Regions from separate parts of the Homo sapiens genome. Here all the other regions are reported to be linked to region 7. Evidence: microRNA targets listed by miRTarBase, many of them from high-throughput screens and not tested one by one. Region 7 holds a microRNA gene; each other region holds the end of a gene's coding sequence. Distances are between the middles of the regions.
Evidence for each region. Region 7 holds the annotated microRNA hsa-miR-29c-3p (UAGCACCAUUUGAAAUCGGUUA, at 1,139-1,160, opposite strand). A microRNA usually pairs through its seed, bases 2 to 8, with sites in the 3' UTR of a target mRNA and lowers its output. Matches are read on the target gene's strand: a 7mer-m8 pairs with bases 2 to 8, a 7mer-A1 pairs with bases 2 to 7 and ends in A, and an 8mer does both.

Region 1: miRTarBase lists QTMAN as a target of hsa-miR-29c-3p. The part of its 3' UTR that is shown has no 7-base or 8-base seed match.
Region 2: the mRNA of TMEM132A is a reported target of hsa-miR-29c-3p. Seed matches in the 3' UTR shown: 7mer-m8 at 741-747.
Region 3: miRTarBase lists EEIG2 as a target of hsa-miR-29c-3p. Seed matches in the 3' UTR shown: 7mer-m8 at 2,333-2,339.
Region 4: miRTarBase lists NASP as a target of hsa-miR-29c-3p. Seed matches in the 3' UTR shown: 8mer at 2,211-2,218 and 7mer-m8 at 2,153-2,159.
Region 5: miRTarBase lists HUWE1 as a target of hsa-miR-29c-3p. The part of its 3' UTR that is shown has no 7-base or 8-base seed match.
Region 6: the mRNA of COL21A1 is a reported target of hsa-miR-29c-3p. Seed matches in the 3' UTR shown: 7mer-m8 at 485-491 and 8mer at 1,073-1,080.

What each region holds. Positions count from the first base shown.
Region 1 is chr2:143,944,416-143,947,634 of GRCh38, reverse strand. It overlaps QTMAN (queuosine-tRNA mannosyltransferase), which reads left to right. Exons shown (of 12, transcript NM_001376312.2): 12 at 500-3,219. The coding sequence ends at 583. All of the region lies in intron 2 of QTMAN-AS1 (QTMAN antisense RNA 1), which reads right to left. Among named protein-coding and RNA genes, the nearest start is that of QTMAN-AS1, 9.0 kb to the right of the region's middle.
Region 2 is chr11:60,936,254-60,939,472 of GRCh38, forward strand. It overlaps TMEM132A (transmembrane protein 132A), which reads left to right. Exons shown (of 11, transcript NM_178031.3): 11 at 1-906. The coding sequence ends at 654. It overlaps SLC15A3 (solute carrier family 15 member 3), which reads right to left. Exons shown (of 8, transcript NM_016582.3): 7 at 1,617-1,772; 8 at 831-1,120. The coding sequence ends at 966. Among named protein-coding and RNA genes, the nearest start is that of TMEM132A, 13 kb to the left of the region's middle.
Region 3 is chr1:108,634,620-108,637,619 of GRCh38, forward strand. It overlaps EEIG2 (EEIG family member 2), which reads left to right. Exons shown (of 11, transcript NM_001010883.3): 11 at 489-3,000. The coding sequence ends at 531. Among named protein-coding and RNA genes, the nearest start is that of HENMT1, 25 kb to the right of the region's middle.
Region 4 is chr1:45,617,648-45,620,647 of GRCh38, reverse strand. It overlaps NASP (nuclear autoantigenic sperm protein), which reads right to left. Exons shown (of 15, transcript NM_002482.4): 15 at 1,755-2,587. The coding sequence ends at 2,507. It overlaps CCDC17 (coiled-coil domain containing 17), which reads left to right. Exons shown (of 13, transcript NM_001114938.3): 13 at 215-604. The coding sequence ends at 373. Among named protein-coding and RNA genes, the nearest start is that of CCDC17, 4.9 kb to the left of the region's middle.
Region 5 is chrX:53,530,466-53,533,646 of GRCh38, reverse strand. It overlaps HUWE1 (HECT, UBA and WWE domain containing E3 ubiquitin protein ligase 1), which reads left to right. Exons shown (of 84, transcript NM_031407.7): 84 at 236-1,551. The coding sequence ends at 338. Among named protein-coding and RNA genes, the nearest start is that of MIR98, 24 kb to the left of the region's middle.
Region 6 is chr6:56,054,892-56,058,110 of GRCh38, reverse strand. It overlaps COL21A1 (collagen type XXI alpha 1 chain), which reads left to right. Exons shown (of 30, transcript NM_030820.4): 30 at 267-1,521. The coding sequence ends at 454. Among named protein-coding and RNA genes, the nearest start is that of BMP5, 180 kb to the right of the region's middle.
Region 7 is chr1:207,800,727-207,803,945 of GRCh38, forward strand. It overlaps MIR29C (microRNA 29c), which reads right to left and starts at 1,213; the gene lies at 1,126-1,213. It overlaps MIR29B2CHG (MIR29B2 and MIR29C host gene), which reads right to left. Exons shown (of 6, transcript NR_135299.1): 6 at 792-1,936. It overlaps MIR29B2 (microRNA 29b-2), which reads right to left and starts at 1,797; the gene lies at 1,717-1,797.

The sequences.
Region 1 (3,219 bases), not on the chromosome of region 7:
CTGAAGTACTGGTATAATGAAATAATGAATATAAACCTGTTATAAATATGAAGCACTTTTTAAATTTCACATAATAGTAATGGCATTTATCTTTGTGTCTTCATCATTTAAAAGTAAAATTCACGGCAGAAACTTGTATGTACAGTGTTACGTGTCTTGTGTTTATATAAGTTAAAAGTTGGATGATGAACTTTCATCATCCAACTATGAATGGTTGTCATTCATAACATAAACCAAGAAATATGTGTGCAGCAGAATATACCCATTTGCAGAAAACAGTAGCCTTCTTCTCTGGTTGGAAATACAACGACACTTTAGACCAATCAGAAACTGAGATTTCCTGAGGTGATGAAACTCAAGAACCATTTACTTGGTGGCTTTTTGAAATGTAATTGACGTAAGTGATGCAAATTTGCAATATAAATTTTCAGCATACTTTCATCTTTTAGTCATTAATGCTCTTCACTTCTTTCTCTTCTCTCCCTCCTCCTCGTTGCAGGGTGAAATCGCTCCGTTTTCTTGGGCAGCCCTACATGGTAAATTCAGGTCTCTGCTTACAACAGAACCTAGGGAAGATTTGTGACAGATGGGGCTAAGTCACAAACTTGCAGCCTAAGGCAGAATCTGAAGAACTTTCCAGAGTGTGCCCATATTTACCTGATCAGAGAGAAAAGAAAATCTGCAGAGGAAGCTGAGCCTGGCTGCTTGTCATAGCTGACACAGAGCCATCTGCCACAAACCTGTGGCGGCTTCAGATCTCCAATCCCTGCCACCACCCCAACTCAAATTAAATACAGATTCCTAGAGACGTTATGATGGTTACACATGTCCTCGGCATCACATGTAGGAGACTGTTCAAAAAAAATATGTGGCCTGTTGTATAACCGCACTCATGTATCCCATATGTGGTGCCACATTGAATTTCCGGTTGAATCCGTTTTTATCCTTTGTACTGGATGACATGGTGCCTGAATTCTTTCTTTTCGCCGACACGATGGCAGCCAAACTGCAGCTTCAAACGCTCACACTTGGCTGGGTTTCTACCTAGGTTGCCAGGTTATCATCGGAGCCTTCTTGTGTCCTCAAAGGGCCACGAGGCCTGAAAGGAGGATCAGAATGCTTTGGGATTAATTGGGCAGCCATCGCAGAATTGTTTGTGGGCAAAGGGCTGCTTTAGCACTTTTCTTTTAGCAAATTAATGACTCTCAGGCACAGGGGGTTTTAAGTGAAGGTATTAATAAGAGGTCTGGCAGGTATTCCCATGATTCACAGAGTTACATTTGCATTTAATTAATCTTAAAGTTGCAAGATAAACAGCTGTAATTCGGACAAACATGACAAACACAGTGAAGCCAACTATCCCATAAAATGAACACTGACATACTTGTTTTAATTTTTTTCCCAGCGTAAAAATAGAAAAATCAAAATACTCCTAACAAAACCAGTGATTTTGATAGAAATATTTCTCCAATATACTTGCATCCACCTACAAATATAACCTTTTCAAGATAAATCGCTTATGATTTCAATAGTCAAACTGCTGTGTTTGTTGATGTAAAGATGTTTTGAATGGCTAGATGGTAAAATAAATTCTTAATAAAGTACCCACTGCAATTTTTAATTAGCATATTCATTTACATATAGATGTATACATCTACCTATGTGTTTCTCACTGAACGTTTTCCTTGTGACAGAGACAACAAATACAATTGTTTCTTTTCCGGATGAACAAGGATCTGTTTTGCAAATGTTTGTAAGATATTATGACATTTCCAAGATTTTCTTTGCATTCTGGAAAGCAGGAGGTAAACATTTGTAGTCATTAAGGTAAAGTCTGTTGATAAACCATCTTCTGTTTACTGACAGGTAAATTGTAACTTTCCCTAGCTTTTGAAATGAGTAACTTCTATACACCACAAAGTGAGGCACAGCCTGGGAAAGGTGGCTAGACAAGGGGCAAGCCAGGCTTTCTAGCTTCTGGAAGGATCGAGTGGCCTAGCAGGCATCTAAGATAAAGAAAGCAATGATTCGGAAGTCCAGTAGGGCCCATTTGACCGGTAGCAAAATCGAAAGCACGAAATAGATCAAGGTTAGGGAGCCAGACAAAGCCCTTGGAAGAGAGGCAGTATTGCAGATCGAAGCAAGCAGTTCAGAGTCTATGAGGCCTGGGAATTTAAAAGCAGGAAGAGTAAGAAGCAGAAACAAGAAGCTCCATCTGAACAGACTCCTCTCTCCAACCTTCATGAGACCCACAGTGTGTGATGGGCCACCACAGCACTGGCTTCTAGACTTTTACAGGGAAGCCAGTGAACAAATTACCTCGTCACCCAGAAAACAAAGAGCTCAGGAACTATTTTGGAAGTTCCTTCCAGTCTAAGACTATGGAACTCAGAATCTAGCAGGTGTGTTCCTTTGGATAGCAAAACTAAAGATATAAATATGAATAAGAAATTCTTTGCCACTTCTCCTGGGCAAGGTTATACTTTATGCCATCTACTGAGATAAACCAGATGAGTCAGTTTGCTTCTGTCAGTTGCTGTGTCACAGATGACATCTTCTCAAAATAATATTATCTCACAGCCAAGAAATAGCGCTTCGTTTACTGTGTTTTTCTATCCTGAAACTAAATGGGCTTACGCTTCATAGTGGCTAAGATACTCCACACACAACTAGTACCCATAGATCTTTTCTCACTGATAGGAAAAAAAAAAAAAAAGCATTAAACACCTTTCAGAGAGTACATCTGAAACATTTACGTATTTTCCTGATTTAGGCAAATATAATATTGAAAGTTACCTGTATGTGGGCATTTTTTTCTACACTCATAAATGCAAATCAAATTTTGCCATTAGCTGTGGCCAACATTCCTTCCAGGACAAAAGCTTACATTAGGCCGGGTGCGGTGGCGCACGCCTGTAATCCCAGCACTTTGGGAGGCCGAGACGGGTGGATCATGAGGTCAGGAGATCGAGACCATCCTGGCTAACACGGTGAAACCCCATCTCTACTAAAAATACAAAAAAAATTAGCCAGGCATGGTGGCGGGTGCCTGTAGTCCCAGCTACTGGGGAGGCTGAGGCAGGAGAATGGCGTGAACCCAGGAGGCGGAGCTTGCAGTGAGCCGAGATCGTGCCACTGCACTCCAGCCTGGGCGACAGAGCGAGACTCTGTCTCAAAAAATAAATAAATAAATAAATTTAAAATAAATTTTAAAAAAAT
Region 2 (3,219 bases), not on the chromosome of region 7:
GTGAGGGGCAAGTTTGAGCGGGCAGAGGAGGAGGCCAGGAAGGAGGAGACCGAAGCCAGGGAGGAGGAGGAGGAAGAGGAGGAGGAGATGGTCCCTGCCCCTCAGCATGTCACTGAGCTAGAGCTGGGCATGTACGCCCTGCTGGGAGTCTTCTGCGTGGCCATCTTCATCTTCTTGGTCAATGGTGTGGTCTTCGTCCTGCGCTATCAGCGCAAAGAACCTCCCGACAGTGCCACTGACCCCACCTCCCCCCAGCCCCACAACTGGGTCTGGCTGGGCACTGACCAGGAGGAACTGAGCCGCCAGCTGGACCGGCAGTCCCCTGGCCCGCCCAAGGGGGAGGGGAGCTGCCCCTGTGAGAGTGGGGGAGGAGGGGAGGCCCCTACCCTGGCCCCTGGCCCTCCTGGGGGCACCACCAGCTCCTCAAGCACCCTGGCCCGAAAGGAGGCTGGGGGGCGGCGGAAGCGAGTAGAGTTTGTGACATTTGCGCCAGCCCCTCCAGCCCAGTCACCTGAGGAGCCTGTAGGGGCCCCTGCTGTGCAGTCCATCCTTGTGGCAGGCGAGGAGGACATCCGCTGGGTGTGTGAGGACATGGGGCTGAAGGACCCTGAGGAGCTTCGCAACTACATGGAGAGGATCCGGGGCAGCTCCTGACCCTCCACAGCCACCTGGTCAGCCACCAGCTGGGGCAACGAGGGTGGAGGTCCCACTGAGCCTCTCGCCTGCCCCCGCCACTCGTCTGGTGCTTGTTGATCCAAGTCCCCTGCCTGGTCCCCCACAAGGACTCCCATCCAGGCCCCCTCTGCCCTGCCCCTTGTCATGGACCATGGTCGTGAGGAAGGGCTCATGCCCCTTATTTATGGGAACCATTTCATTCTAACAGAATAAACCGAGAAGGAAACCAGAGCTGGGACTGCTGCCGTCTGTCCGGTAGAGTGAAGCAAGGGGGCTGGAATAGGGCCTGTTCAGCCCCTGTCCCTGCTGAAACGGCTGTGGGAGGCTGGGCCCTGGGACGCCCTCTCATAGCGTCCAGCGATCCAGACAAATAGGAGAGCCGTGACGGCCTGAATGCCAGCCAGCAGGAAGAAGTAGAGGTCCATCCGGCAATTGTTGATGTTCCCTGGGGAAAGGAGGGGTTAGATTTGGGTCAGGACAGGGATCCTCTGTCTTGCGCCCTGTGCCTGCCGTGTCCTAGCCCTGGGGCTGGCAACTGAGGCCATGTGGGCAGTGGTGGGATCTGAAGACACTGGACAGATACCCACTAATGTTTGACTTCCTGAAGATCTCCAGGGGTGTCTACAATTCCTCTTCAGCTATTCAGAAGGGGGCGTGAAATATAAACACCATGAGAAAGGTAACCCTTCAGCCAGAGATGGCAGAGTTCCAGAAGCAGAAAGGAGCCTTGGAGGTCCACTAAGTTCAACACTTGGGGAAAGAAAGGCCCAAGGAGGGAGGCCACGCTGTGGGTGACTGGCCAAGCCCGGGCTAGAACCCCATTCTCCCAAGTCTAGCCCTCTACTTGCTTCTCCCCAGAGTCAAAGCACTTTAGCAGTTGCCACCTCCTTTCCAAGCCTCCCTCCATCCATGTCCCACTCCTGGGGAGGCCCCATACTCACCAAAGTCCTTGGGGCAGTGCAGCCAGCCCCCGGGCAAGGACAGCAGTGCCACTAGGCTGGAGCCCAACAGTGAGCCCACCCCCGACAGGCAGAAGAAGATGCCCATGATGGCGCCCTGCATGGAGCGCGGGGCCTCTGAGTAGGCAAACTCCAGGCCTGCAGAGGGGGAGCAGAGACGATCTCAGGGGCTGGTGCAGGCGCAGAGAACAGGCCCAGGCCCCTGCTTGCTGCCCCTGACCCTGCCCCCACCAAGCCACCCTCCAGGCTTCCCCTGGATGCCTGTCCACTCAGTGGCAATGACAGCACCCATGCATCAATGCCGCCTTCCCCTCTGCCCTGCTCACCTGCCTCCTGGCTGAACCCCTGCACCGGGGTACTCCATGCGCTGCCCCAATAGCTCTGTCTCCCCTCCTCCCCTTCCTGCCAGGTCTATCATTTCAGTGACAGCACCATCTTTACCTCCTCTCTCTCCCCACCCTCTCTGCCCACCTTCAACGTCATCGTCAAATTGTTTTGATACAGCCTCTGAAATCTATTCTAAATATATGTCCTTCTCTCTATTCCCTCTGCCCTGGGTCCAACCCCAGCCCTGGTCACTTTCTGCAAATGCCTCTTAAACTCCCCTGACTCCTGTCCTCCTCACACAGCCAGGAGCATCAGTCTAAAGGACCTCGGATGGGGTCCTTTCCCGGCCAAAACCCCCTGGAGAGGAGGGGCGCTGTTGCCTTCAGGAGAAATCCCAAGGTGCAGGCTCAGCGCACAAAGCCCTTCGACACTTCGGCTCCCTGCACCTCCCATGCCTCTCCAGCCCTATCCCCCACGCTTCCCAAAGGCTTGGGCCTTTGCTTATGCTGTTCCCTCTGCCTGTAAGACCGCTCCTCCTACCCACTCACCTGCCCGCCTCCTCTCCATGCTTAAGGGCTCCCACTGCACTCTGCCCTGACTTCCACAGCACTCCACTGGCTCACTGTTTGCCTGACTCTCTCCCCATCTGAGTGAGCTCCCAGGGTCAGTCTTTTCTTTATGTCTGACCCAGCCTAGCCCTGGGCCCGCAGCTGAGGAAGCCCTTGCTTTTTTGCTGACTGAAGGGCCTGCCCCAGCCTTGCAGCTCTAGCTCCCAGCCCGGGGAAGGGGGTTGGGAGGGTGGGGAGCGAAGGACATAGAAATCCATTACTATGACCCAGAGTACTGTGTGCTATGATAGAGAGATGAACACGGGGCGGGAAGGGAGGACCCCTTCTGCCCAAGGACCTTGGTATTTAGGCTCAGAATTGAAGGGGATATTGGAGTTCACCTTCAGTCTAAGGTAGAGGGAACAGCAACTTCAAAGACACAGAGGGTGGAGAACCTGGCACCAGGGGAATACGTGGAGAGCTGGTGTGGGAAGTTTCTTGCTCGCCTCCAAATCCCCAGTGCCTGTCACATAGGGGCTGACTTGAACCAGGTGCTAATTATAGACCCCCGTTGGGTGAATGAGCCCTGGTCAGAAAACACTGCCTTCCTCCATGCAGATGGGCCCTGGGGGCTGCATCCCTGGGGTACCTGACTTTGAGGTGCCACCGGGCAGAGCCCATCACTGGTGCAGGAGCAGGGGAGGGGATCC
Region 3 (3,000 bases), 99 Mb from region 7:
GGAGTTCTGGTTGCAGTGAGCTTCAGTCATGCCACTGCACTTCCATCTGGGCAACAGAATGAGACCCTGCCATGAAAACGCCACAATATTATGACAGCTGAAGACCATCATCATTAACTCAGTGCAAGTCCTGATGCACTGCCAGAGTCAACATATGCTCTTGGATGAGACCTATTTTAGAATGAATAGATAAACATGTTTGAAGAGCATTTCTTGCCACCATTTGTCGATAGGTCAAGAATTGGGGAATTCTAATAGATTATTGTGGGAATAAGTGTGAGAGAATCAGGATCTAGGCTAATCCAATGTATTAATGATAAACATTTAATATTTCACATAGTTTCTATCCGTGATGCCTTTAAACGTTATGGAAATCAAATCTAGTAGAAAAATACCCAGTGCCCCATCTCTCCAGGGGTAAGGTTACTTGGAACAGTTTCAAACACTGCAGCTCAAAATTTTGAAGTTTTTTTCCACTGCTGTTTTAGGGTGGGGTCTGGAGCTTATGAACAAGTTGTGATCAAACGCTAGAAGTCAAGTCGGTGAAAACATTTCCTTGTGGATTTAAGATGTGAGTAGTTGATGTATCAAGGCATTTTATTCAAGCACTTAATAGAAAATGAACCTCAACTATCAAGAGGAAAGCCAATGCTGGTTTCTTCTCTGGAAGGACCCACCGCCATCCTGTACCAGCCACCAAAGGGGAACATCTACATGGCAGTCTCCAGGCACTGTGCCACTGTGTGCCTTGGAAGCACCTGGCTTCTGTGGTCACTGCACATCATAATGAAAAGCCTGCTTTTTCTTTCAGAACACCCCAGCGGAGAAAACAGCATTATATACATCGGAGTATCATTTTAGGATTCAAGTGTAAAAATCTGTGATCAAGAGGCTCAATAGATTTGGGCTCTATGGTTTGGTTTTTTTAGTTTGAGAGACAGTACATGAATATAACTTAAACCCTATAGATTTTGTCAAGATAGTTGTAATTCCTGTTCTGGAAATCTTCCCTATTACACTACCTACAGCATTGTATAAAGTGTGGGTGTTCATGCTTTGGGAAAATGTTAGACTACAATTTAAACATGTGATGTGCTTATTCATAATTCTCAGTGTATCAGTCATAAATGAAATAACAAGTGCATTTAAGTCAGAGATACGTGAATGGATGTAATGCCGTTATGCAGTATATATTGTTAATTGTCATTAATATTAGATGAGCTGCAGAACCACCCCCAAGCACTACATAAAAGACTCAAAATAAGTTTAACACTTACTGTGTTGGGCACCCTAACAGAAGAGCTATCTTAACTCATTGAATATTAAGATCTGCTGGTTTCAGGAGTCAAAATGTAGAAAAAGAGGAGAATTGTAATATGGTCAGAAACAGAGAAGCCTTTTCTATGTAAATTCAGACTTATCTGAGGCTAACAGTTTTCCGAAGTGGTGGTGGGTAGCAGCATGACAGCTGCTTGCCATGACTGATGCAGACTACTAGGTTTCCATTTTAGCTCTCTGTAGGTACTGTTTTCTTCCCCACTGTGTCGAAAGTGATTTGTTTTGAAGCAAGAGTAGAATATAACATCTATCAAATATAGCTTTTAAAATAAGAATACCTGGTCTGGATCCAGTTGAGCAGCACAGCAGATAAACCTTAGAGTTTTTCTGTTCTTACATGACGGTTTCCATGTGGAAAGATCTAAACTTTCTTGGAATCACTATTAGTGAAGAAAAATGTAGAATCTGTATAACCAGTAATTCCCCAATTCTTACTTTCAAAGTCATATCCAAGAAAGACAATATGTCAGAATAGAATGACTTTGGTCTAGGTGTTTTCACGTTGGCAAAAATAAGGAGGAAATTATATTATTTTAATATCCAAATTTAAAGGTTTGGAAAATTTTGAATAGTTAATATTAGAACTTATGTTGCTGTTTTTTATATTTCAAGGATTGAGTATTCTGCATTAATCCAATACTATTCCAACAAAGAGATTCTGGAAGTTTTTAAAAAATGATACCCTGTTTTATATTTTGAATGTAGAGAGACTCTGAGAGAGAGAATGTTCTGAGTTATACTTTTTATTTTTTAAGATTTATTTTTAAGAATAAAACATTGACCTGAACATTTTAGCCTAACCAAGGGACTTAAGTGGTAAAGACTTGCATTATGTCTTCATGTGAACTGATCCGTTCATTATATATTATGGGAAAAATCAAAGAAAGTTTTTTATAGAGATATGAAGATATTATTTAGAGAGATATTTATTATGACATTTTTTAAAAACATATTTTTCTATTTTCAAAATATTATTTCTAGGCTATATTTTTATTGGTGCTGTGCAAATGATTTTGCAGTTTTGAAAATGATAAAACTAGATTGTAAGTGGGGTTCAGTGAGGACATTCATCAGACACGTAAGAGGTGCTGCAATCAGGGTGATGCCCATCTTACTCATCCTTGGCTGCCCTTGGTCCGACACCTCTCTATACAAGACTGGTTCTCAGTATTTTAAATGGTACAGAATTCTTTTTAAAAAGTAGAGAGATTTTGAAAAGCATAAAAATCATGCCTTTATAATCTTAGCAGCCATCAGATACACCTTGATTTATGTAGTAGTAAATATAACAAATATTTTAATAAATAGAAACACTGATAAGGAAGAAAAAAGAACTAATGTCTATGTCTTCTGTAGTCAGCAAAAGTCTGGATCCATTTTCTATTTTGTGTTCCATTGGCACACTTTGTGTTCAAATTTCAGTGCAGTCCTTTCAAAATACTCGCTAAGGGTTGCCTAAGTGTCTGCCTTACTTTCTGATTGTCCTTTTCTGAGAGCATGGTTAAGAACATCTTAACCATATAGCTGTTGAAAAAATCTGTTTATTAAATAACAAGTTCACTTCTGTTTATGTTTTGAGTTTAGAAAATTTGACTTGAAAATTTAGATTATTAATAAATTTATTTTTAAATATTAAAGTCAAATTTCAAATCACCCAGTGTT
Region 4 (3,000 bases), 160 Mb from region 7:
TATTGACCACTGTGTGCCAGTCATTACCAATGCTTTCTTGTTTGATCCTCACATCTCTATGAAGTCCTACTATGTAACAGATAAGGAAATCAAAGCAGGAGCAGGTTAACTTGGTTCACAGTAAGTGAGACTCTAAGGAAGCCTAACTAACTCCAAAACCTGTGTGCTTAACCTTTACATTTTTGCTCAAAACCTGCCTTCTCCTGTTCCACAGGTGTCCAGCACATCTTCACTGGAAGCCAGCTTCCTCACCCCCGCAGTTGGCTTTGCTGATCCCCCACCTCGTACAGAAGAGCCCCTCAGTGGAGTCAAGGATAGAGATGAGGGTTTGGGCCCTCACCACAGTTCTGACTTGCCCCCAGTGAGTTTCTGAACCCAAGTGAATGTGGAGATGAGCATCTGAACATGCACAGGACTGGGGCCTATTTCCAGACCTACAGGTTTACTACTCCATGTTCTGACATTGGGTCTAGAAGCATCTAGCAGTTGAGTACAGAAAACCAGTTCCAACCACAGCTTTACCACCTCCCGTTAAGTCCTTAACTTTTCTGTACCTCTTCTGTTTTTGTAAAACAGATTAAGGATTAAATGAGTTTGTCAGGTATTTGTGATATTGTCTGGCACTTATGAAGTTCTCCGAAAGGTGACTAGGGGGCATTAATTCCCACTAAAGCAACTTTAAATTCCCACTAGTTCCCACTGCTTTTTTTGGTAAAGCCAGTTTTATTGCCAAACTTAAATCCGTTTCCTCAGTATTTCTGCCAGGAAACCTTTCAGGTTCTCAATGTACCCATAAACAGGAAGCTCCTGAGGCCTTATGTACTTTGATTCTGGGATAGGTCCCCAGCCCAAGGTTGTTCCCCCAACCAGGGGTCACATGTGAGATCTAGCTTAGATACTGTGCCTAGCCCTAGATCCCAGTGCCAACCAGAGAAGGTCAAGTGCCTGGGAGTAAACTACATCGTGACTGTCCTGACCAAGAAAAGGGGGCAAAGCGCCTCAGGACCTGGAACATATACTGCAAGGGCAACATCAGGAAGAAACTCCACAGCCAGGATAAGCCAGAGATCCTGCAACCATGAGTTACTGTGACCAGCCCAGAAAAACTTACTTAGTCTGAAAAATTGGGTTGAATTTAGGGGCCGGCCATCGCTTCCTCTGCCTCCAGTGCAACAAAAGCAGCCCTATGGGTGTCATGACTACTAAATTGAGGTGGTGATATAGGGCAGGCATTGTTTGGAATTCAGATCCTAACTGGTACTTAGAGTCAGGTCAGAGGCAGTTCAGTCTCAAGTGAGCCCTGACCCCTAGACACCAGTGAGAGCACAACAGGTCTAACATTAATACTAGTGCCCTCACCACCAGCATCCTTGGACTGGTGGGCTCGTTTCTGCCTTTGAAACCCTCTATCGCACACAGAAATGCTCCAGGCAGTCAGGTGAAGTGGCTCACGCCTGTAATCCTAACACTTCCTGAGGCCAAAGTGGGCAGATCACTTTAGGTCAGGAGTTCGAGACCAGCCTGGCCAACATGGTGAAACCTCGTCTCCACCAAAAATACAAAAATTAGCCTGTAGTGCTGGCTACTTGGGAGCCTCCTGAGGCAGGATAATCTCTTGAACCCAGGAGACAGAGGTTGCAGTGAGCCGAGATCACGCCACTGCACTCCAGCCTGGGCGACAAGAGCAAGATCCCATCTCAAAAAAGCAGCCTAAGACCCCACTTAAGATCTTTAAACATAATTCCAGACAAGGAGATTTTTAGCATCTTTATTTGAGAAGTCAATTCTGCAGATGGGTAACAATTCCAAGTGTTGATATATCTCAACCTTTCTATACAGAAAATAACAAAACTCAACCAGCCAGCCTCCCCACATATGCTTCCAACCACATCTGGAGTGTCCACCATCAGTCCCCTTGGCTACTTTCAAACCAGAGCTCAAATGCAGACCGTTTTCCTTAGGAATCATTCCCCTGACCCAGGTTTTCAGAGTTCTTTTTCCAGGACAGAATTATAGCCCCAGGTGAAGACTAGGTGGATATAGGACAAGAACCATCCTAGGCCTGGCTCACAGCCAAAGTCCATCATCCATTTTCAGCACTGAAGAGCAAGATCTTCACCAATTCTTGTTTTTGTAGCCCCCATCCAGGGACAGCACCACTGAAAGTTTGCAAGACAGCTGGGTTCAGTGAAGTGTTTGAAAACAGAATATAGCACCATTGGAAAACAAAGGCCTACAGCCACACTTGATCACCTCCACGTTAGACAGATAGGAATTAGGATCAGGAACACAGATCAGTACAGAAGGCCAGAACAAAACCTTTGGCTAATATATAAAACCAGCAGTGCTCCAAGGCAGATTCAGCCAATAATTAAGAAAAAAACCATCAAAGCCTCAACCTTTGCTTACAATCTTTATTGAAGTTATACAAAAAGAATCCTCCAAAAGTGAAAAAATACATTATATACAAAAACACTTTCCCTTGGGAGGAGGGCTGTGCCCCCTCTTAACATGCAGTGCTTTCAACTGTAGCTCCAGCCTCCACTGTCCCCTCCACTGCTGCCCGGCTTTCAGCCTGATTCTCAGCCTGGAAGACAAACAGAACCTGGGCATGAGTGAGCCTAGTTTAAGCCATTCTGTCTTATATAACTGAGGCCTCAGTCATAGGAAGCATATACAAGTCACCCAAACTCTGCTTTGCTCCCTATATTAAGAGGGCAGTGACCACAAAGTATTTCTTGAATACTCTGTGATAATGGGGCTGACAGAGCCAATAATCATCACGTGGAAGGAAGTGACCTAATGGTTTTGCCCATCAAGTGCCTTCTCATATATTCATCGAGGGACCTATAATATACAGGTTCCATTTGTCAGTGAGTCATCCTATACTCCCATAACCAAACTGTTTTCCTGCACAAGTACCGTTTTCTGTGAGGACTGCACTCAACAATCGTTAGCAGGCTCAAGGTGGGGAGCATGCACTTGAGAGGACTGATTTCC
Region 5 (3,181 bases), not on the chromosome of region 7:
GAGGCCAGGGTGTTTAAGGAGGAGTGACAGGGTCAGATTTTTGGTTTTGGTGCCTGATGGCCAGTTTGGGAGCCAGATAAAGGGGGACATACTGGGCTGAGACAAGATTGGGAGTCATCAAGAAGCAGGGAGTTGGTTTCTTCAGGGAGGGGAGGGGCTGGTGGGCACCATGGGAACACACAGATTTGGTTATCTGTCATCCCTCACCACAAACTGATCTTTCTTCTTTCCTTAGTTTTAATCAGCTGGATCTGCCTGCCTATGAGAGCTTTGAGAAGCTCCGCCACATGCTACTGTTGGCTATCCAGGAGTGCTCTGAAGGCTTTGGGCTGGCCTAATAAGGCCCTGCCCAACTCCGTGGGGTTTTTTTTACCATTGTTGGACCTGGGGAGGGGGGAGTTAAAAAAAGAACCAGAAAGAAATTGTCAAAAACCAATAAATGAAATCCACCAACTCACCGTGTGTGTCCCAGCTGCCCCATCTTCCCCAGCGCATACCTGTTCCTCTTCTCATTCTCTCCCCGCCGCCTGTTTCCTCACCTTCTCTCCCCTTTCCATGCCGTCCATGATCCCCACCCCATGTGTTTTAAAAAGGCAGTAGCCTTTGCAGGGACCTGTCTGTCCCAACTGTTTGAACAGTGTGCTCCTCAGATTCTGTGTTCAGAAGGATTTGCTGCATTGAGACTTGAAACCTTTGGATAGGGGAAAAAATTATATATATATATATTTTTTTGTTCTGTTTGCATTTCTTAATTTGTGCTTGGAATGTGTTGATGTGCACAGCTAATGATTCAATGCGAGACAAGATTGGCGTCTGTGTTGTGGAGGTTTCAAATAAAGAGCACTCTTCATAACTCACTTTTCACAATGGAGTTTTTTTCAAACTTAAAAAAAAAAACAAAAAACTCTTAAGCACATGCTAGGCATCTGGAGAAAAGATGGATTCTCCAGGAAACCATCCCTGCCCTACCCGCTTGCCCACCTGCCTCCACCACTGGTGCAACTTCCTCCTTCAGAGTCAGTTTCTGCAGTCAGGAGAGATGAGCAGTTCACCAGGAATTGGGGGTGGGGGCATCTGTTTTTTTTTTTTAGAATGGGAGCTGCACTTGGGGATGGTGATGGTGTTAGAGATTGCAGCCCAGGACAAAGCATCACCTTGCTCAAGGGGAACAAACTGCAGCAGGTTGTACAAAACATTCAGAGAGCTCACTTGACCCAACCGAGGGTTTTACTTGGTGAGCCTTTCTAGTAGTCTTGAGTCTGGGGCTCAGTTTTAGATTTTTATTTCATTAATGTTTGTTTATTTCTAATAAATTTTAATAAGCGAGTAATTTAACTAGGTCGCCAGAAGACCATTATTTTTGTTTGTCTATTTTTGTTGTCGTCACTCCCTCTCTCGTCATCTGTCTGCCAGTCTGTTCACAGATCACCTTGTAGTCCCTTGTGGTTTTTACTCCATCCAGTGCTTAAAGCTGATCTAAGGACTTCGATGGTTCCAGCCTTCAAAGAAAAAATAATTTAATAAAAATTTAGTTAGAAAAAATAACCCCAAGTGGTGCTTGCCTTGTGTGGTTTTTCTCATTTTCCTGGGGTGCTACCTCTGAACAGATTGTCCCCTTGACCTTGTCCCAAAGTGTGGGTCTAGGAAAGAAAGGGTGTGTCTTTAACCTGATCCCCTGGTCCTGGAGCCAAGGCTGCTAGCCATTTTCCCCTTTTTTAGTGTTCCCACTCTTTTGTGCCTGGCCCTGCTTTGATGACTGAGAAGGCAGAGGAATTGCCCCATCCGTGTTACTGAGCTTCTAGTAGGGAGGCGAAGACAGTGATTAGTTTTGTGACAGATGAAGAAAGGGGTCTCAGTGCACATAGAAGTGCCTGACCTAGCCTGGAGAGTCAGGGAAAGCTTTCCATCGTCGGTGCACTTGGATTGCAGCCTAAAGCTGAGCAGGAGTTGAGGTTAAGCAGAGAGGGGTCATATAATTCAAGGCAGGAGGAGTTTAGTTGCTTAGAGTCCAGCAGGACTTTAAAATGGAAGAGATACACCAGGTGCGGTGGCTCACGCCTGTAATCCCAGCACCTTGGGAGGCTGAGGCGGGTGGGTCACCTGAGATAAGGAGTTCAAGACCAGCCTGGCCAAAATGGCAAAACCCCGTCTCTACTGAAAATACAAAAATTAGCCAGGCGTGCTGGCGTGCGCCTGCAGTCCCAGCTACTGGCAGTCCTAGCCACCGCGCCAGTCCCAGCCAGGTTCCGTGACTCACGCCTGTAATCCCAGCACTTTGGGAGGCTGAAGCAGGAGAATCGCTTGAACCCGGGAGGCGAAGGTTGCAGTGAGCTGAGATCACGCCATTGCACTCCAGCCTGGGTGACCGAATGAGACTCGGTCTCAAAAAAAAAAAAAGAATAAGCAGAGAGTAGAATTTGTCAATAAGCAGTAAGATTAACTGGTTCTTTGAAATAAAGGTCTGGCAGGTAATTTAAATTTGAAAGTAAAGGGGGGGTTCCTGGGTTGGAGGTTGGGGGTTGGATGTGGAAGCTGGGAGTACAGATGGAATAATCCTATGGGAAATGGAAGCAAATCTCATTCAGTGGGATACTACAAAAATAGAGCATGATCAAGTGTGATTTGCCCCTGGGATATGTGTAGTGTAATATTAATCGCCTCATTGTCAGTTGAGAAATCTTTGTCCGTAGATGGCAAGGCATTTGTTCACATTCAAGAACCATTCCTGGCAACCTTTAAAGGTAAAGCTAGCTTGATAAGGTAGTTTCAGACCAACAGCCAACATCACACTTGAAAGATAAGGTGGCTAATTATCACTATTAGTGCTGTTCTGCTATTCTGCAGTTTTCTATTTCAGTAAAACAGGAAACAAAAGGTATAACTTAAACCATTTGCTAACGGAGTCAAAAGTTATTGGAGCAGGGCATGGTGGCTCATGCTTGGAATCCCAAGGCTTTCAGAGGCCAAGGTGGGAGGATTGCTTGAGCTCAGGAATTCAAGACCAGCCTGGGCAACATAGCAAGACCTCTCTACTGAAATTTTTTTTTAATCTAGGCATGGTGGCACACACCTGTAGTCCCAGCTACTCGGGAAGCTGAGGTGGGATGATCGCTTGAGCCCCAAAAATCGAGGCTGCAATGAGCTATGATCACGCCATTGCACTCCGGCCTGGGAGACAGCG
Region 6 (3,219 bases), not on the chromosome of region 7:
CTAAATGTTTTAATCAGTAGCATGGTTACTATGTTAATATGCTTAGCCTAGTTTTCAAAAATTACTGATAACTTTAACTTTTGGATGGTTCTTTTCAAAGCAGAAGACATGTAGAATTATCAAGAAAATGCCTCTACTATATAATTAGTGCAAATATATAAAATATTCAAGGTTTTTTTTTTCAGTTTAAGTTTCTTGCAGAATTGGCTATTTCATTATAAAAAACTAAAGTCCTCTGTTTACGTCTTGCCAATGTCCCATCTTAGGTCCAGAGGGCCCTCCTGGAATAAGCAAAGAAGGTCCTCCAGGAGACCCAGGTCTCCCTGGCAAAGATGGAGACCATGGAAAACCTGGAATCCAAGGGCAACCAGGCCCCCCAGGCATCTGCGACCCATCACTATGTTTTAGTGTAATTGCCAGAAGAGATCCGTTCAGAAAAGGACCAAACTATTAGTGTCTGATGCCTCATTCAGCAGCCTAGGCATGGTGCTTTTTCTGTGGTCTTTTGCATCTCAGGAAGATAACCAACAGTAATCCCTTGAAAAGAAACTTAAGTACCTCGGTGTTTTTATTTTTTTTTTCTTATGGAAAAAAATATAAAAGATCACATATACTGATTTTAAAGGCTCCTCAGTCATTTGGAGCCCTTGGATTAGCAGCATTAATTAAATCTCAAGGGTTTCTTGTAAAGTCCATTTATGTTAATCAAAGTTGAATATAAAAATCCACCATTGCCTGTTAGCCAGTCAGTTTTAGTCACTGTGAAATATTTCACATTCAGCCTCCATGCAGTAGAGATTTGAGTTTAATTTCATGTCCATGTGACTTTCATGTTTCCTATCTCATAGCTCATGCTACTACATAAGCCAAAACATGTATCTCATCATTGGAAGTAAGATCAGGGCTGATATTCACCTGGGATAGACAGTATTGGTGAACTACTCATTTACTACAGTGTCTCAGCCTTGATAAGGGGCAGTGGATTGCCTGTTGTTCGGTGTTGTGAATAGCACCTCTGAATAAGATTAGAGTGTTTCTTAATTCATTTCAAACTCTAAAATTAGATTAATGGTGGTGCTAAGAAAGAGTATTAATTACTTTGGGAATGGTCAAAATTAACATTAAAAACATTTTAGACAAAAAGTTTCATTGTACATTCAAAGAAAATGTAAGTTTGGAAGTACTAAAAGACTATTTTATACTTGTTGATTAATCGGAATGTTTGTTGTATGCCTTCATTTTCCATTTCACTTATATGTGTATGTCCATATATGTTAATTTTCATTGTAGCAAAGCTAATGGAAATAAAGCTAATGCTCTAGTTGAAAGAAAAGGAAAACTCCTGAAATCCTAGAATGTCTTGTTATTTTTAGCTGACTGTAAAATATTATGAACAGTCTTTGTGTATTGTGCTTAATGCTTTTGTAAGAAACAGAATTTGAAATATTTCATCCTTGTCATGCTCAAAATTTTGTTACATGCTTGTTATTCAGAGTATAATAAAGTTTTGTACAGGCCTGATTACAATGTCTTTTTTTATACCTAATTTTAACTGATTGTTGAGTATGGTATGTATATTGCATGGTCATTTATTCAATGGATATAATTTATGAAATCATTCAGCCTATTCTTAAAAAATGTGTTCACCTGAAATAAGAAATTACAAATTGAATTGGTGTGCTACACACCTGAACAGTTGAAACACTTGCTTCCTAGCACAGTCATGGCTGTTGCCCAGTGTTTAACTTTATTGTCGTGCAAATTCTATTATTTTGATGAGGACTTTGGAGGGGACTAAAATTTATGATGTTTAGTGGCTGAATGAGCATAAGGCTTGTTCTGGTGTTTTATCTCCAGTAAAGGCCCAGGTATCTGCTTAAGCCAACAAACCTATCACCCCTGCTTTAATTATGACATTTGCTTCTAAGAGCTGGTAAAGAATCAGAATAAAGCCATTTGGTATCATTGATTTATTCATCCAACAGTACTCACCACATGGATAGGTTCGGTGCCTGGGATACAATGGCAATATAGTTAGAATTTGGCCTGAGGGAACACATGTATAACGAGACACAGGTAAGTGTACAGGTGATTCCAATATATTAATTCTAAGAATGGAGAAAATGCAATTGAAATGTAAAAGATGATGTTATGGACTGCATTGTATGCCCCCGATTCATATATGGAAGCCCTTACCCCCAATGTGACTATATTTGAATATAGGGCTTTCAGGAGGTAACCAAGATAAATGAGGTCATAAGGGTGGAGTCCTAATCCCATAGAATTGGTGGCTTTATAAGAAGAGGAAGAGGTTGCTCTCCCCTACTACCCTCCCTCCCTTCATCTGCTTCATCTACCTCATGGCCTTCTAGCTCTCACATCCAGGGAAGACTATGTGAGTACATTGTGAAAGGTGACTCTCTGCAACCTGGAAAAGGGACCTCACCAGAACCCGACTATACTGGCACCCTAATTTCGAACTTCCAGCCTTCAGAACTGTATGAACAAAAATTTCTGTTGCTTAAGCCAGCAAGTCAATGATATTTTGTTATGGCATTCCAAGCAGAGTAGTGCAGATTATAGTAGGCTAGGAGGTATTGGCATAACTAAGTCATGTAAAGATAATGAAAATGAGCAAAGGGTGGAGGGTTAGAAAAAGCATGAAGAATTCCAAGAACAACAAAATCTATGGAATGTAAACTATATTTACTTTCAGTATTTCTGCTTTAAAATTTGGCATCTCAGGATGAAATATTTCCATAATTTAGCATGGCATACATTGTGTCATAGTTTTGCCTTGGAGAAATTTAAGACTAACTCATAACACGCTGATTTTCAAGAATGAATAGGTGAATAATCTTGCTCTGCAAGTACATTTTTGCAACATAACTATGTTACGTGCTCAGCACCATGTTACGTGAAAGGCCTTTTAGTGTGGTTGCTGAGAGCATGGCTTCTGTCCTGAGATTTCCTGCATCAAAATTCCTACGTTTTGTTTCTAGCTGCGAGGCTTCAGAAAATTTATTTACATCTTTGTACTTAAATTCTTTCATATGATAAGTTGAGGATATTAATAATACTTACTTCATAGTATTAAAAAGATTAAATGAGAGAAAACAAAAGAAATTCATCAGTGAAATAAAGTCATACAATTTACTAGAACTAGACAGAAAATATGGGGTTACCAAATCTTTTTTTTTTTCTTTTTTTTGAGACAGT
Region 7 (3,219 bases):
CAAAACTGGCTCACTGGGCCAGGCGAGGTGGTTCACGCCTGTAATCCCAGCACTTTGGGAGGCTGAGGTGGGTGGATCACGGGGTCAGCAGTTCGAGACAAGCCTGGCCAACATGATGAAACCCCGTCTCTACTACAAAATACAGAAATTAGCTGGGCGTGGAGGTGCCACGCCTGTAATCCCAGCTACTCGGAAGGCTGAGGCAGAATTGCTTGAACCCGGGAGGCGGAGGTTGCAGTGAGCGGGGACAGTGCCATTGCACTCCAGCCTGGGTGACAGGGTGAGACTCCGTCTAAAACAAACAAACAAACAAAAAAAAAAAACAAAAAAAAACTGGCTCATCTTGTTTTGAAGTGTTGACATAAACTAATAGTCAAAAGCACCACTCAATCTTTTATAATGCAAGTGAAATCAGTGCTGTGCCCCTTCAAGGAACCATGTGACAGTATGTTTAGTTGAGCACCAGTTCCTTGCAGGAACAGTTGCTGGCAGAAGGGCTGTGTCTACAGCCCATGTGGAACTAAGGAGTTTTCCCATTCAGTAGGGAGCATCCCTCAGCCTTGATCTTCAACATTTCTTCTCTTCCCTAATCTTTTCTCTCATTTTATTTCTTGGCTCATAGAATTTCATTCTTCTCTTAATGGGCTTCATTTTTAATGTCTGGCTGGCTGTAACCTACTTCAAATTCTTTATGAAGTAGGCAAGATCTGCACAGCCAATTAATTTTTCAGGACCCACTTCTTATCATCACAGAATTATGAATGGGAAATAATAGATGAAAAACACAGACATGATAAACTGAACATAGTATTTATTAAGGTCAGGATGCATGAATAGACTCTTCTCAACAGAAAGATAATTCAACAGCAATCAATTTACAGAATTTAGAACAGCACTACATTTCAGCAAAATGCAACTAGAGAACATCAGATAAATTATAGTAATTTGTTTTTAAAAATCCATTAAACTATCTCTTACCTCTGCAATAATGTATCATACATGCAGTTACAGAAGTTAGTAGGGAAAAGCATGATCTTCCTTCCCTATTCTCTGCCCATCCATCTTCCAGGAAACCACAGGCTGCTGCTGCCCAGAGTTGGCATGAGGCTTCGAGGCTGCTGCTTTTCCCCCTACATCATAACCGATTTCAAATGGTGCTAGACAAAAACAGACTCTGAACACCAGGAGAAATCGGTCAGCCTGTGTAAGAGATGGGCCAGTGGTGCTCCCAGGGTCTGCACCTCGACAGTCCAGGTGGCAAGTCTGATTTCGGGTGCCCCGCAATCAACGCCGAATACTCCAGGGCATCCTCTAAGAGCAGACTGATGGTGTCGATGTGGACAAAATGGTCCTCCAGGTGTACTGCCCTCTCCCCTGCCCCATGACAATCGACACCCAATACATTGTTATCCAACAGAATATGACAATCGCCACACTCAAAGGCCCTACGAACACATTCATGCTGGTGATGGCTGCTAGGAGTCAACAGAAATAGCATCACAACCTCTGCCCCTGCTCAAGCCACTGTGTTTATTTTAAACACAACCCCCTTCTCTACTGTCACCTCTCCCAAAACCCAACAAACTCAAGAGTGTATTTTGCTCTTCAAGTTCTTCCCTGGACTTCTCGAACAGACTCAAGTGGCAAGAGGAGAGGAGCCAGTTCCATGAGCAGCAGTTCCTCTGCAGTCCACCCTTGGCTGTGCTGCAATTCTTACTCCTAAAACACTGATTTCAAATGGTGCTAGATACAAAGATGGAAAAATCTAAGCCACCATGTGAAACCAGCTTCCAGAAGAAGAGGATCTCAATGAAGAAAGAAGGGAGATTCAATCGGAAGACCCAGCCTCTGCCCTGAGGAGAAATATCTTCTTGTAGTTCTACTTGTGATATGACACAGTGCTCCATGGGAAAGGCACAGAGGAGGTTACACAGGGCTGCACAAGGCAACATGAAAGGCACAGCTGATGCTTCAAATAGATGAGAGCAATACAAAACTCATTAATTCTAGGTTAATTCTATTTAACTTCACACCAGTCACTACAAATTATTATATATGATGAAATAAAAGCTAAAATTATTACTAAAATACATTAATATTTACATTTGTACTGCCCTGCATTTGTATAGTATTTCACAGTACACAAAGTGTTTCCAGATATATTCTCTTACTTCATCAGGACACAAGCACCCTATCTGCCTGTGGAATGAAGCTCCAGCTGCTACACAAAGGCGAGTCTCACCTGGGCCAGGACAACTCTTTTATGTGTCTTAACTTGAGAAAAGCATGCATTCCTCCTTCCCACCCCATATGTAAGTATCAGAACATTCAAATATGACCCCATGAACCTGCAATCTTATTTAACCCCGATGTGACTTCAAAAACTGGTACCCTATAATTGTATTAAGCAGATAATCCTCTAACGTAAGAATTGAGTTTTATTTTCAAAGTCTGCTTGAAAATAAGATTTGCACACTGTATTCCAAATTAGATTTCCCATCTCCTTACTGCATCATCTTTTTTGGTGGTTTGAAGCTAAGAAAATATGTGTATTTCCTCTGATACCATAACCAAGAGAAAAGAGACAGAGTAGACACTGTATATTTTAGCTTCCTTTCAGGCCTCTAGATACAGCCTTATAATTTTTATGGTTCCTGGCACTAACAGTATGTGTTGCTAGAAGGAGAAGAAATAGAATTTGAACATCAAAAGTTGCGGTGTTTAATTCTCACAACAGTCGTATGGGGCAGGTATTATTCCAATTTTTGCGAAGAAATTCATCCTTAATGAGGCTAAATAACTTGTCTGCAGTCACACAACCAATCAATGCAGATCCCAGGTCTAACTCCAAAGACTGTGTTTCTGCCCTTGTATCCACTGCAGCCTGCTCCATAACTTGACTATCATCTCATTTTGTTCTTGAACTTCATTAAGAACAAAACAGGGTGGGTGGGGCAGGAAATTCCTAGGCGATACTTCTGCACTGAATGGGATCATACTGACTACATAACACGTTATACTTAGGGGGAGACAGGAGCATCATCTGGGTTCTGCGAAAGCCGGGTGGTCTGGGGCAGCTTGCTTTGTTCTCCTGCTCCTCTAGCGCCTTTGCCGTCTTTCCCCAGCATGTGGCTGTGGGAAAGACACTGAAGATGAACCTGCAACAAGCGATTCTGACACCAGCGCTAGGCTCTACAGCCCACGGGGGACTTGCTAGCC